Homo sapiens: one gene and its partners. The protein of the gene in region 1 purifies or fractionates together with the protein of each later gene. This does not show direct contact. Each region holds a gene or a part of one and is shown in the gene's direction. Other genes may lie near its edges. The genes, in order: CR1L, RMND1 and SERPINB8.

Evidence for each region.
Region 2: the proteins of CR1L (region 1) and RMND1 purify together in Homo sapiens (affinity purification with mass spectrometry; one large-scale study listed by BioGRID and IntAct). This does not show direct contact.
Region 3: the proteins of CR1L (region 1) and SERPINB8 purify together in Homo sapiens (affinity purification with mass spectrometry; one large-scale study listed by BioGRID and IntAct). This does not show direct contact.

The regions. Positions count from the first base shown.
Region 1 is NC_000001.11:207,647,982-207,651,635, forward strand, and holds part of CR1L (complement component receptor 1-like protein precursor), read left to right. Parts: intron 1-3,654.
Region 2 is NC_000006.12:151,424,512-151,428,165, reverse strand, and holds part of RMND1 (required for meiotic nuclear division protein 1 homolog), read left to right. Parts: intron 1-583; coding exon 584-684; intron 685-3,654. UniProt on the Homo sapiens protein: Required for mitochondrial translation, possibly by coordinating the assembly or maintenance of the mitochondrial ribosome.
Region 3 is NC_000018.10:63,983,517-63,987,170, forward strand, and holds part of SERPINB8 (serpin B8), read left to right. Parts: intron 1-62; coding exon 63-205; intron 206-1,576; coding exon 1,577-1,729; intron 1,730-2,741; coding exon of another isoform or gene 2,742-2,750; exon of another isoform or gene 2,751-3,134; intron 3,135-3,357; coding exon 3,358-3,654. UniProt on the Homo sapiens protein: Has an important role in epithelial desmosome-mediated cell-cell adhesion.

The DNA.
Region 1 (3,654 bases):
AGCCCACCTCTACAGAATATTAAAAACAAAAAATTAGCCAGGTGTGATGTTGCATGCCTGTGGTCCCAGCTACTTGGGAGGCTGAAGGGCGTGAAGGGGGAGGATCACTGGAGCCCCCATGGTCAAGGCTGCAGTGAGCCCTAATCATACCACTGCACTCCAGCTTGGGTGACAGAGTGAGACCCGGTCTCAAACACACACACACACACACACACACACACACAGACACACACACACACACAGAAAAAAAAAAAAAACCTGGAAGTTGAAGAAGATAATGAAAGCAATTTGAAATAGAGGAACATAGAATTATAAAATGAATAGGGTGCAACATGGAAGATAACAAAACTAAAAATGAAGAGAAGGAAAAATAAGGTTAAGTTTGAGGTTGATAGGGTTAAATCAAGACAGGTATGAAACCTAGAGAAAGTAAAAATGAGAACTCACGATGCTAGGCAGAGAGAATACATGAATTAAAATAAACATTCAATTTTTGGAGCAACTCACTCTCACAAAGATAAGGTTTTGTAAGCAGGTGGTGCTGTGCATGGGAGACCTGCCCTCTCAAAGGTAGTTGCCAAATGGTTCCAGATAGCAGAAGGAAACATGTGTCAAATTTCAGGCCAGTCTCATTCATTCCTCCAGAAGAGGAGCTGCTTTTTTGGACAAAACCCCCGATCTCCTGTTGTGTGTGGTCTCTTCTGCCTATTTCAGGTGTTTTCCTTATTTTCAATGAAAGAAGCCAAGACCAGTAAGTTCTTATTGCTTCTTAGTTTCCTCACTCGGCATACTACAATGCAAAAAGAGCAGTCCATATCTGGTCACCTGCCAGGATACCAGAAGACTGGGAGATAGGCAGCACAAGAAATGGCTAAATCTTCTTTCTCCATTGTTCTGTAGAATGATTATTTTCAATATGAAATTGATTACAATATATTCTTCACATTGTTTTGTGTTTGACAGCAGTGGACTTTGAGTACCAAATTTTTTTCAAATAGCTACTATGAGGGACATATTGTGCTGGGTGTTGTGGCCACATGGATGAATGGAGTCGGCCTTGTTAACTATTAAACTCAAAAACACGTGATAATTACCTGAGAGATCCATGCAGGGGAGAGTCCAGGGGAAGGTGACTGATCACTGCTTCCCAGGGGGAGGCAGAAAATGCTTCTTGGAGGAGATGATGGGTGGATTAAAGAAGACAAGAGCTGAGCAGGAGTTGTAGCTACCGGCCAGGGAGGAAGGGTATTCAGAGCAGAGGAAGCAAGGTGAGCAAAGGCACCAAGATGTGACACTGCTGGACTGCCAAGCTATTCAGTGTGGCAGAGTAGGGTAAAGGAGACAACAAAGAAGGGAGAGGAATAAATCACAGGGTGAGCAGTTCTAAAAAGCAACAGGCTTGTCAGGAATAAACAATCACCATCGTAAACTCAGACTTTGGTATTATTCCCTGTCCTTTTAGGGCAGCTTGAGCCCTTTTGTTTGACTTAGCACAACGTGACTCCAAACTAGGGTTGTTTTAATTTCCCGAGACACAGTAGTAGGCAATTTCTTGAGGACCTAATTGCAGATAGAGTTTGTCGGTCTCAGCATGTGGGAGCTCCAGATGAATGGCAGTAATGGGAAGCAGTTTGGTAGTGGTTCAGCAGTGTGGCCTGGGAACCTAGTTGACTGGCCTGCCTCCTGGGTCTGCCAACCTAACTGGAATGTATTCTTGGGTTCTGATTGTGATGGGATTTAAAAGTCTCTAAGCTATGTTAGGAAGCCTTAGACATTATCCTGAGGTCATTGGAGAGCCATCGAAAGGTATCTGTCTTGGAAAAACCTTGATTACTCTGTCATATAAATACTGCTCTGGTAATGTGAAAAATGAATTGAATGAAAGGTGGCAAGATAGGTATGGAGACCTATTTAGTTATGTCGTGGTAATCCAGATAAGAAATGATAGTGGCTTGAATGAAAAGTAAAGGATACAACTACATAGAATAAACGGGCATTTCAGTTGTGGAAACATAACTTGTTTGGGGGGCGTGTGTGTGTATGTGTATGTGTGTGTAGAGTCAAAAGTGGCTCTTGGGCCTCCCTTTGTTGTTTGAGCTAGAGTGACACATTCCAAGTAGAGCTGTGTGGGGAGGCAATTGAATATGTAGTTTTGGCACCCCAGCTAGAGATCTGGGATGGAGAGATACCCAGCTAGGAGGCAGCTGGTTATCAGTGGTAATGAAGTCACAGAAGTGTATATATTCTCCCAGGGGGACCTGCAGAATGGAATCACAGGAAGTCCTCCTACAGACTCATCAGGGATATTACCTTGGTATGAGCCAGAGGACAAGCTGAAAACCAGAGTGGTTTGCTCTCCTAAAAGCCAAGGAGTGAGAACTCTTCAGGCAGAAGAGAGTGAGGGCAGAGTGATCAGTAGCTCTCACGTTATCAAGAGGGTAATTCAAACTATTAAGGAAGAGACTGTTAGGAGGAGTTTAACAAGGAGGAGGCCCTTTAATGACTCAGAAAGTAGTTGAAGTAATTTTCATAGACCTAAAAATGAGTGGGAAGTGAGAAATAAAATTGAAATATGTAGATGTCAGAGTTTATGTTTTGTGGAAGCAAAAAAGGTTTTAAATAGATTGGATAGTGGGAGAAGGAGCAAGATGGTCAGGTTTCATTGCCATTTCACTTGTAGTCAAATACCATGAATTTCTGGTAATACTAATCTGGGCAGGGCTGTGGGTATGCGTGTACATTAGTTAATTTTTTGCAAGCAGGTGTGAATGTACAGAAGTTGAACAGTTCAGTGGATGCAGTGTAGATTTTTTTTTTTTTTTGAGACAGAGTCTCGCTCTGCTGCCCAGGCTGGAGTGCAGTGGTGCAATCTCAGCTCACTGCAACCTCTGCCACCTGGGTTCAAGCAATTCTTCTGCCTCAGCCTCCCGAGTAGCTGGGACTACAGGCGTGTGCCACTACACCTGGCTAATTTTTTGTATTTTTAGTAGAAATGGGGTTTCACCATGTTAGCCAGGATGGTCTCTATCTCCTGACCTCGTGATCCGCCCGCCTCGGCCTCCCAAACTGCTGGGATTACAGACGTGAGCCACTGCACCCGGCCCAGTGTAGATAATTCACTTTACTAAAACTCACCTGGAACTTTGGGGAAATTTCTGACTGCACCTATCTTATGATATAATGGCACCTACTGTTGAGGTATAGTATTGTAGCTTAATATTAATTATAATATAAAATATCTAGAAAAAATAAGTCAAGATACTGTTTTTCTGGGGGTAGGCATGTTTAGTTTGAAATTTTCCATAGGAAGAAAGTCCTCTGAAAACGTATTGCCAATAAGTGCATTGCAGGACATGATATATAAAGAAAATATTGGACAGTATATATATGGAGAATTTTAGAATTTAGAATATGACATGAAATGAAGGTGAGATTTCACTTGGTTAGAATTTTCTTGACCAGTCTCTCAACCTGAGGCAGGACCATGACCAGGGAGTAAGAAAAGAAATGCTCCTTGGAGATCAAAATAGATCTATCTACTTTGGTCCTTCCACTATAGAAGAGGCCTTTGCATTCTGTTGGCCCTTTAGGCTTTTACTTGATGTCTCCATCATCTTATTTTGCAAGCCCACAGATAATTTGAGGAAGATGAGT
Region 2 (3,654 bases), on another chromosome or scaffold:
TTTTTATTAGTATGTTGGGCTTTACTTTTTATTTTTTATTTATTTATTTTTTTGAGATAGGGTCTTGCTCTGTCACACCGGCTGACATTGGCTCACTGCAACCGCCACCTCCCAGGCTCAAGCCAGCCTCTCAGGTAGCTGGGACTACAGGTGTACATCACCACACCCAGATAATTTTTGTATTTTTTTGTAGAGACAGGATTTTGCCACGTTGCCCAGGCTGGTCTTGAACTTTTGAGCTCAAGGATCCACCCGCCTCTGCCTCCCAAAATGCTGGGATTATTAAAGAGATTTAAAGAATACAAATTATAATATTACTAGTGATTTTCCTTGGGTTGTGGGATAATGATAACCTTGATTTTCTTCTCCATTCTCATCTGTGTTTTCCAAATGTAAAAACAAATGAACATGTCATCCTGATTACTTTAATATCACAATGGATTTGATTTGCCTTTTCCTTAAAAACATGCAACAGAAATAATGCCTGTAAGTGTAATGAAGACTGTTATAAGCATTAAAATCATAACATACTTGAACTGAGGGAGTCAGTTATGATTTCAGATTAATCTTCCTTTTCTTCTAGATGAAGCATGTGATGAAAGTTCTAGAAAAACATGAAATTCAGCCCTATGAAATCGCACTGGTACACTGGGAAAATGAAGAACTTAACTACATAAAAATAGAGTAAGCAACTTTTCATCAAATTTATGAAAGGGGCACTTGGAATAAATTAGGTAAAGCAATAGAGGAGACAAATTATTATGCATATGGAAACTTTTTTTTTTTTTTTGAGACGGAGTCTCACTCTGTCGCCCAGGATGGAGTGCAGTGGCACAATCTCGGCTCACTGCAACCTCTGCCTCCCGGGTTCAAGCAATTCTCCTGCCTCAGCCTCCTGAGTAAGTGGGACTACAGGTGTGCACCACCACGCCCAGCTAATTTTTTGTATTTTTAGTAGAGACAGGGTTTCACCATGTTGGCCAGGATGGTCTGGATCTCGACCTGGTGATCCGCCCACCTCAGCCTCTCAAAGTGCTGGGATTACAGGCGTGAGCCACTGGACCTGGCCTGGAAACTTACTTTTAAGAAAAAAGTGGCCAGGCGTGGTAGCTCACACCTGTAATCCCAGCACTTTGGGAGGCTGAGGCAGGTGGATTACCTGAGGTCAGGAGTTCAGGACCAGCCTGGCCAACATGGTGAAACCCCATCTCTACTAAAAAATACAAAAATTAGCTGGTTATGGTGGCGGGTGCTTGTAATCCCAGCTACTCGGGAGGCTGAGACAGGAGAATTGCTTGAACCTGGGAGGCGGAGGTTGCAGTGAGCCGAGATCACGCCATTGCACTCCAGCCAGGGTGACAAGAGTGAAACTCCGTCTCAAAAAAAAAGAGGAAAAAGATTACTGGTACAAATACAAAGTCTAAACCATATAATAAATATTAGAAGATAAACATAATTTTTTGAACTTCTCAGGCTATCCACAAGTTAAAACAAGTCAGTAGTATAGCCCCAAAATGGAAATGTTAAGTTTCTAATCAGCCTAATCCAATAAAATAGTATGCATTTATCAAATGAACCTATCAAATTATTCCAGTAAATTTTTCTCTTAATCCAGTTTTTTCCTATTGATTTTGGGGGGTGGGGGTATGAAAAGGAAGTATAGTGAGGGGTCAATCTAAGAGACCCACTTGTAGAAGTGTGGGTGCTGGAAGAAGTGGGACCTGGTGTACCAGTTTCACTAAGATAAATGGGTAGGCAACAGACTAGCTGATTTTCCTGACTCAGCCAGAGGGAAAAAATGAAGAGATGTTAGGGCCGAGACAGAGGCAGTATGAACAAGATGGTAGTGTCTTTTTCCTCATGGAGTTACCTGTCTAGTGAAATATGAGTCTTTGCAGGTTCTTAAGAAAGGTAGTGTTAGCCAGATTTGGTGGCTCACACCTGTAATCTCAGCACTTTGGGAGGCCAGGGTGGGAGGATCAACTGAGTCAGGAGTTCAAGACAGCTTGGCCAACATGGCGAAACCCCATCTCTACTAAAAATACAAAAATTACCCGGGCATAGTGGCGAGTGTCTGTGATCCCAGCTACTTGGGAGGCGGAGGCGGAGGCAGAGAATTGCTTGAACCTGGGAGGCAGAGGTTGCCATGACCTGAGATCGCACCACTGCACTCCAGCCTGTGCAACAGAGTGAGACTCTGTCTCAAAAAAAAAAAAAAAGCGTTAAAAGCAGAGCTTTGGGAAGACTTGGAAGAGAGACAGAGACTAGCTATAGAAAGACCAGATGGGGATAAGAGCTGAGTAATCAGCGCTCACCACCAATAGGGCCAGTCACGGTTTTCTAAGTAAGTGCCTTCCATGTATTATTTCATTTAATCCTGGGGAAAACCCTATAATTGCAGCTAACTGGCTTTCCGATGAGATTTATTGAATCCTGTCTTGCCAAAGGGCACCTGACTGTGAGTCAGCCTGAGCCCAGTGGTGGCTGCAGTCAGAGGTAAGGATATAAACCTGAGAGAGACAGCAAATGAGCAGCCTGTAGTTTTATTATCTTTAGTAGTTACTCAGCCCTTGGCCTGCAGATACAGCTCCTGTGAATCCCCTTTCTGTGTTCTATTAGGTTTACATTAAAATGGCAAAAACCGCGATTACTTTTGCACCAACCAAATACTTCCATATCCAACTACTGCTAGACCCTTGTGTGTGTGTGTGTGTACGCTTATCCACACACACACACACACGTTACTGTACAGTCTGTGAGGAGTAAAATCCTCAGTGCTTAGGATCCCAGAGTCAGTTATTTTGTTTCGTCAGAAAGACTGTCCTGGCTGCCACCTACATGGTTATTATGTGAGTTCTGCCATGATTCCAGGGATCTGCTCAGCTCTGTGGCATGGGCCCAGTTTACTCATAAAGCATCTTGTGACCAAGCACAGTGGCTCATGCCTGTAATCCCAACACTTTGAGAGGCCAAGGCGGGCAGATCACTTGAGGTCAGGAGTTCAAGACCAGCCTGGCCAACATGGTGAAGCCCTGTCTGTACTACAAATATAAAAATTAGCTGGATGTGGTGGTGCACTCCTGTAATCCCAGCTACTCAGGAGGCTGAGGCAGGAGAATCGCTGGAACCCAGGAGGCGGAGGTTGCAGTGAGCGAAGATCACGCCACTACACTCCAGTCTGGGTGACAGAGCAAGACTCCGTCTCAAAAAAAAAGACCTCTTGTGACTGCTGTCTTTGCTTTCCTTCCTCCATCTGAGGCTGTCATAGCAGATGCCGCCCTCCATCAGGCCCCTTGTCCCCCTCCCTTTGGCCGTCACTTCTTGTCTGACATCTTTTGTGAAGGTTTACCCTGTCTTTTTTCCATTTGCTTGTGATGTTTATATTCACACATTCCGCTCTTCCCCTGTCCCCTGTCTAGGATTCTCCACAGTCACATACTCATTTTTCACAACTTCCTTGCCTCCCTCCCCAACCCCATCATGTCAGTGTGATTTTAGATTACACTCCATATATAGTTTTATATGCAGCATTTTTTCACATAGAAATTTACTGTGAACGTTCTCCTTTTTATTAACTATCCTTCCAAAACACACTTTTAAGTTTTTCTTGTGTGGAGTGACTATTACTGAGCCAACCCCTACTGAACATTTGGT
Region 3 (3,654 bases), on another chromosome or scaffold:
GATTTTTGTAAAAGAATGCTTATTTCCCCACAAATTGCAATAAACTCTCATATTCTTTATAGGTAAGATTTCAGAGGTACTGGATGCTGGGACAGTCGATCCCCTGACAAAGCTGGTCCTTGTGAATGCCATTTATTTCAAGGGAAAGTGGAATGAGCAATTTGACAGAAAGTACACAAGGGGAATGCTCTTTAAAACCAACGAGGTAGGGAAAGATTTTTCAGATATACTGCTACTTTCTTAAAGTAATATTACAGGAAATATTCTCTTGGAAAAATGAATAATTTATTTGACATGATCTTGATTTTAATCTATTTCTGAATTATATTATATTATTTTATTTTCTTTGAGACAGGGTCTCTTTTTGTCACCCAGGCTGGAGTGCAGTGGTGTAATCTCAGCTCACTGCAGCCTCGACCTCCCAGGCTCAAATGATTCCCCAACCTTAGCTTCCCAAGTAGCTGTGACTACAGGTGCACACCACCAGGCCTGGCTAATTTTTGTATTTTTTGTAGAGATAAGGTTTTGTCATATTGCCCAGGTTGGTCTCAAACTCCTGGCCTCAAGTGATACACCTGCCTTATCCTCCCAAAGTTCTGGAATTACAGGCAGGAGCCACTGTGCCTGGCTTCTTTTCTGAATGAATTTAATGCCTCCTGTGTATCTTTAATGGCGGAAGGAAGAGAGAAACAAAAATAATTTTGGTATTGATAGTTTTGTTTTTCCATCTTTGATCAAATCTACCTTCCATCTCTGGTCATATGATTTGGATTGGAGGAGAATTTCTTCTAAGCCTTGGAATTATGTTTGCATGATGCTATTACTCTCTGTATTTAGTTAGATACCTTTTTGCAATATCAGTGGCAACTATGCCTATTTATTGCCTTAAAAGTCAAAGTTATACAATCCTGAGCACAAGAAAAAAAAGTTAGCAGATGTAAAGCCTAACTTTACCTTCCCTTTTGAATATTAAAATGGCTGGTATCAATAGTTGTTAGCTTGGGATTTGACATCCATCAAATATGATACTCTCATATTGCACAAAGATATGAAAGTTAAAAATATATTTGATGCAGGCTTTAAAAACAGCAGACCTTACACATCTCTTCAAGGTCCCCTTCCTAAGAAAGCCAAGGCCATAAAACCAATTCTACAACAAGGCAACTTTCCAGAGTTTGGACCGTACATCTTTTCTAACCAGATCCTTCAGCCCAAGGGCCTGAATATTTATCTTAACTTCGATAAAGAATTTTTAGTTGGAAGCTTCCATGAGAAAGCTTCTCTGTGAATGTTCTCAAAAAAGCAAACACAGCTTCTTCCAAGGATAATGTCAATTTTTGTGTCCTTCTCCATTTACCAAACTGTTTTTTTTTTCTCACCTGGTAATATTTGATCTGCTGGAACAATAGCTTGTTCTATTCAATACTAAGATGTACTAATGAAGATTTTATATCTATCAGCATAAATGTGCAGAAACAGTAATTATACACACCTAGAGTTTCTGTGAGTTAGATATATCCTATTTTTAGTAAATTATACCCACTTTTCAGTAATCGAACTTTAATTTTTCCGTTAGGAAAAAAAGACAGTGCAGATGATGTTTAAGGAAGCTAAGTTTAAAATGGGGTATGCGGATGAGGTACACACCCAGGTCCTGGAGCTGCCCTATGTGGAAGAGGAGCTGAGCATGGTCATTCTGCTTCCCGATGACAACACGGACCTCGCCGTGGTAAGCTCCAGGCAATGAGCCTGAGTATCTGTGGAGTCCAGCTGAGCTCATTTCTTTATGTTCATCTACCAATTGGCATTTGAGGAGTTTCCAGTTGGGGTTATTACAGGCAGTGCTGGGTGAACATCATTGTGTGTCTTTTGATGAACATGTTCATGCATTTCTGTTGAGTGTATACATATATGAGTGGACAAGTTTTGATGAAGCTAAGAAGAGAGAGTTCTAAATATATTATTATTTGGAATATTATTCTTTATTCTGCATGGAAGGTCTATTTGAAAGCCCAATGATTATTGCACAAAAGTCCTGGAAGAAGGGTAGGGATCAATCTTGGCAGTGATTCTCAAACACTAATGCACATATATGATTCTAGTGATCTTGTTAAAGTGCAGATTTTGATTCAATGGAGTGTGGCCTGAGATGTTGCATTTGTAACAAGATTCCAAGTGATACAGATGCTTGGAACCACACTATGAATAGCAAAAGTCTAAAGTACAGGTGGGAAATTTACCTTATACAAGAGGAGAGAAAAGTCTTACTGTGACAGAAAAGGAACAGAGTCCAGGAAGGGAAGTGGTAAACTTGCAAGGTAGGAGGTGCAAGACTAATAGTGCACTTGTAAACCAGCTCTGGGAGGTGGGAGAAGCCTTCATTTATAAAGTTTGCTGATTCTCATGACATGGTAAATACTCCCACCATGGCCGACTTTAGTCTACTGAGGGTTTAACAATTGATAGGGGTCAGCTCTGGCACACCAATGCACAGGATGTTGAGGGTGGGCTGCTTGATTTTCCTGGCTTCCCTTTGGAATCAGAAAGCTACTGCCCTAAGTCAGGGATGACATCTGTTGTGGCCACTTATGAGAAAATTAGGAGAGTCTAGAAATAGAGTCAAAATCAAAACAATGCTCGTTGGAGAGGAGTACCCACCTGGGCTCCAGTTGTTAAAGGGAAGGGGAGATGCTAGTGGAAGGCCTTTCTCCCTTTTTTCTTTCTACCTTATTGATAAATAGAAAGAGTGATGGATCTTGAAGAATTTGAAGCTAACTCCAGGACAGGCAGAGGACAAACAAGGATGCTGATGAAGTCTTCTTGCATTCCCCATTTCTCGTCTCATGCTCCCTTCTCATGCCTCCCTTCATCTTCAGATGAAACACAATTCCCTCTCTTTTACTCTGAGTTGCCCTCTGATTTAACCCTGAATAGTCCCCTCATTAGACTCAGAAGCAGAGTTCTGAGCCATGCTCTTTGTCTTTTGTCAAACAATCTCTCCCACTCACAGTAGTATGTATTGCATGAAGATTAATGTAATGAATTGGTTAGAATTTTCTAAACTGTTAAAAAATGTTTTTAACATTTGAAAGGAGTTAGGTACAAATTGTTTTTATTAAAAATTTCTGCCTGTCTCAGGTGTTTACTAGCTCTTTTACACTTGTCTCCATAAAACTGTGAAAAGATGAAAATTTGGGAGAAAATCTTGGTGTGTTTATAAAAGAAAATATCTGTAGATTTTCTTGGACCAGAACTCACCATCTAATTGCATGTCATTGGGGGAGGGGTAATAAATGGGTGTGTGGGTATCAGGCTATTGTCATCTAAATTTTAAGGTTTGAGTCTTTCTTATCCTAGGTGGAAAAAGCACTTACATATGAGAAATTCAAAGCCTGGACAAATTCAGAAAAGTTGACAAAAAGTAAGGTTCAAGTTTTCCTTCCCAGATTAAAGCTGGAGGAGAGTTATGACTTGGAGCCTTTCCTTCGAAGATTAGGAATGATCGATGCTTTTGACGAAGCCAAGGCAGACTTTTCTGGAATGTCAACTGAGAAGAATGTGCCTCTGTCCAAGGTTGCCCACAAGTGCTTCGTGGAGGTCAATGAGGAAGGCACAGAGGCTGCCGCAGCCACTGCTGTGGTCAGGAATTCCCGG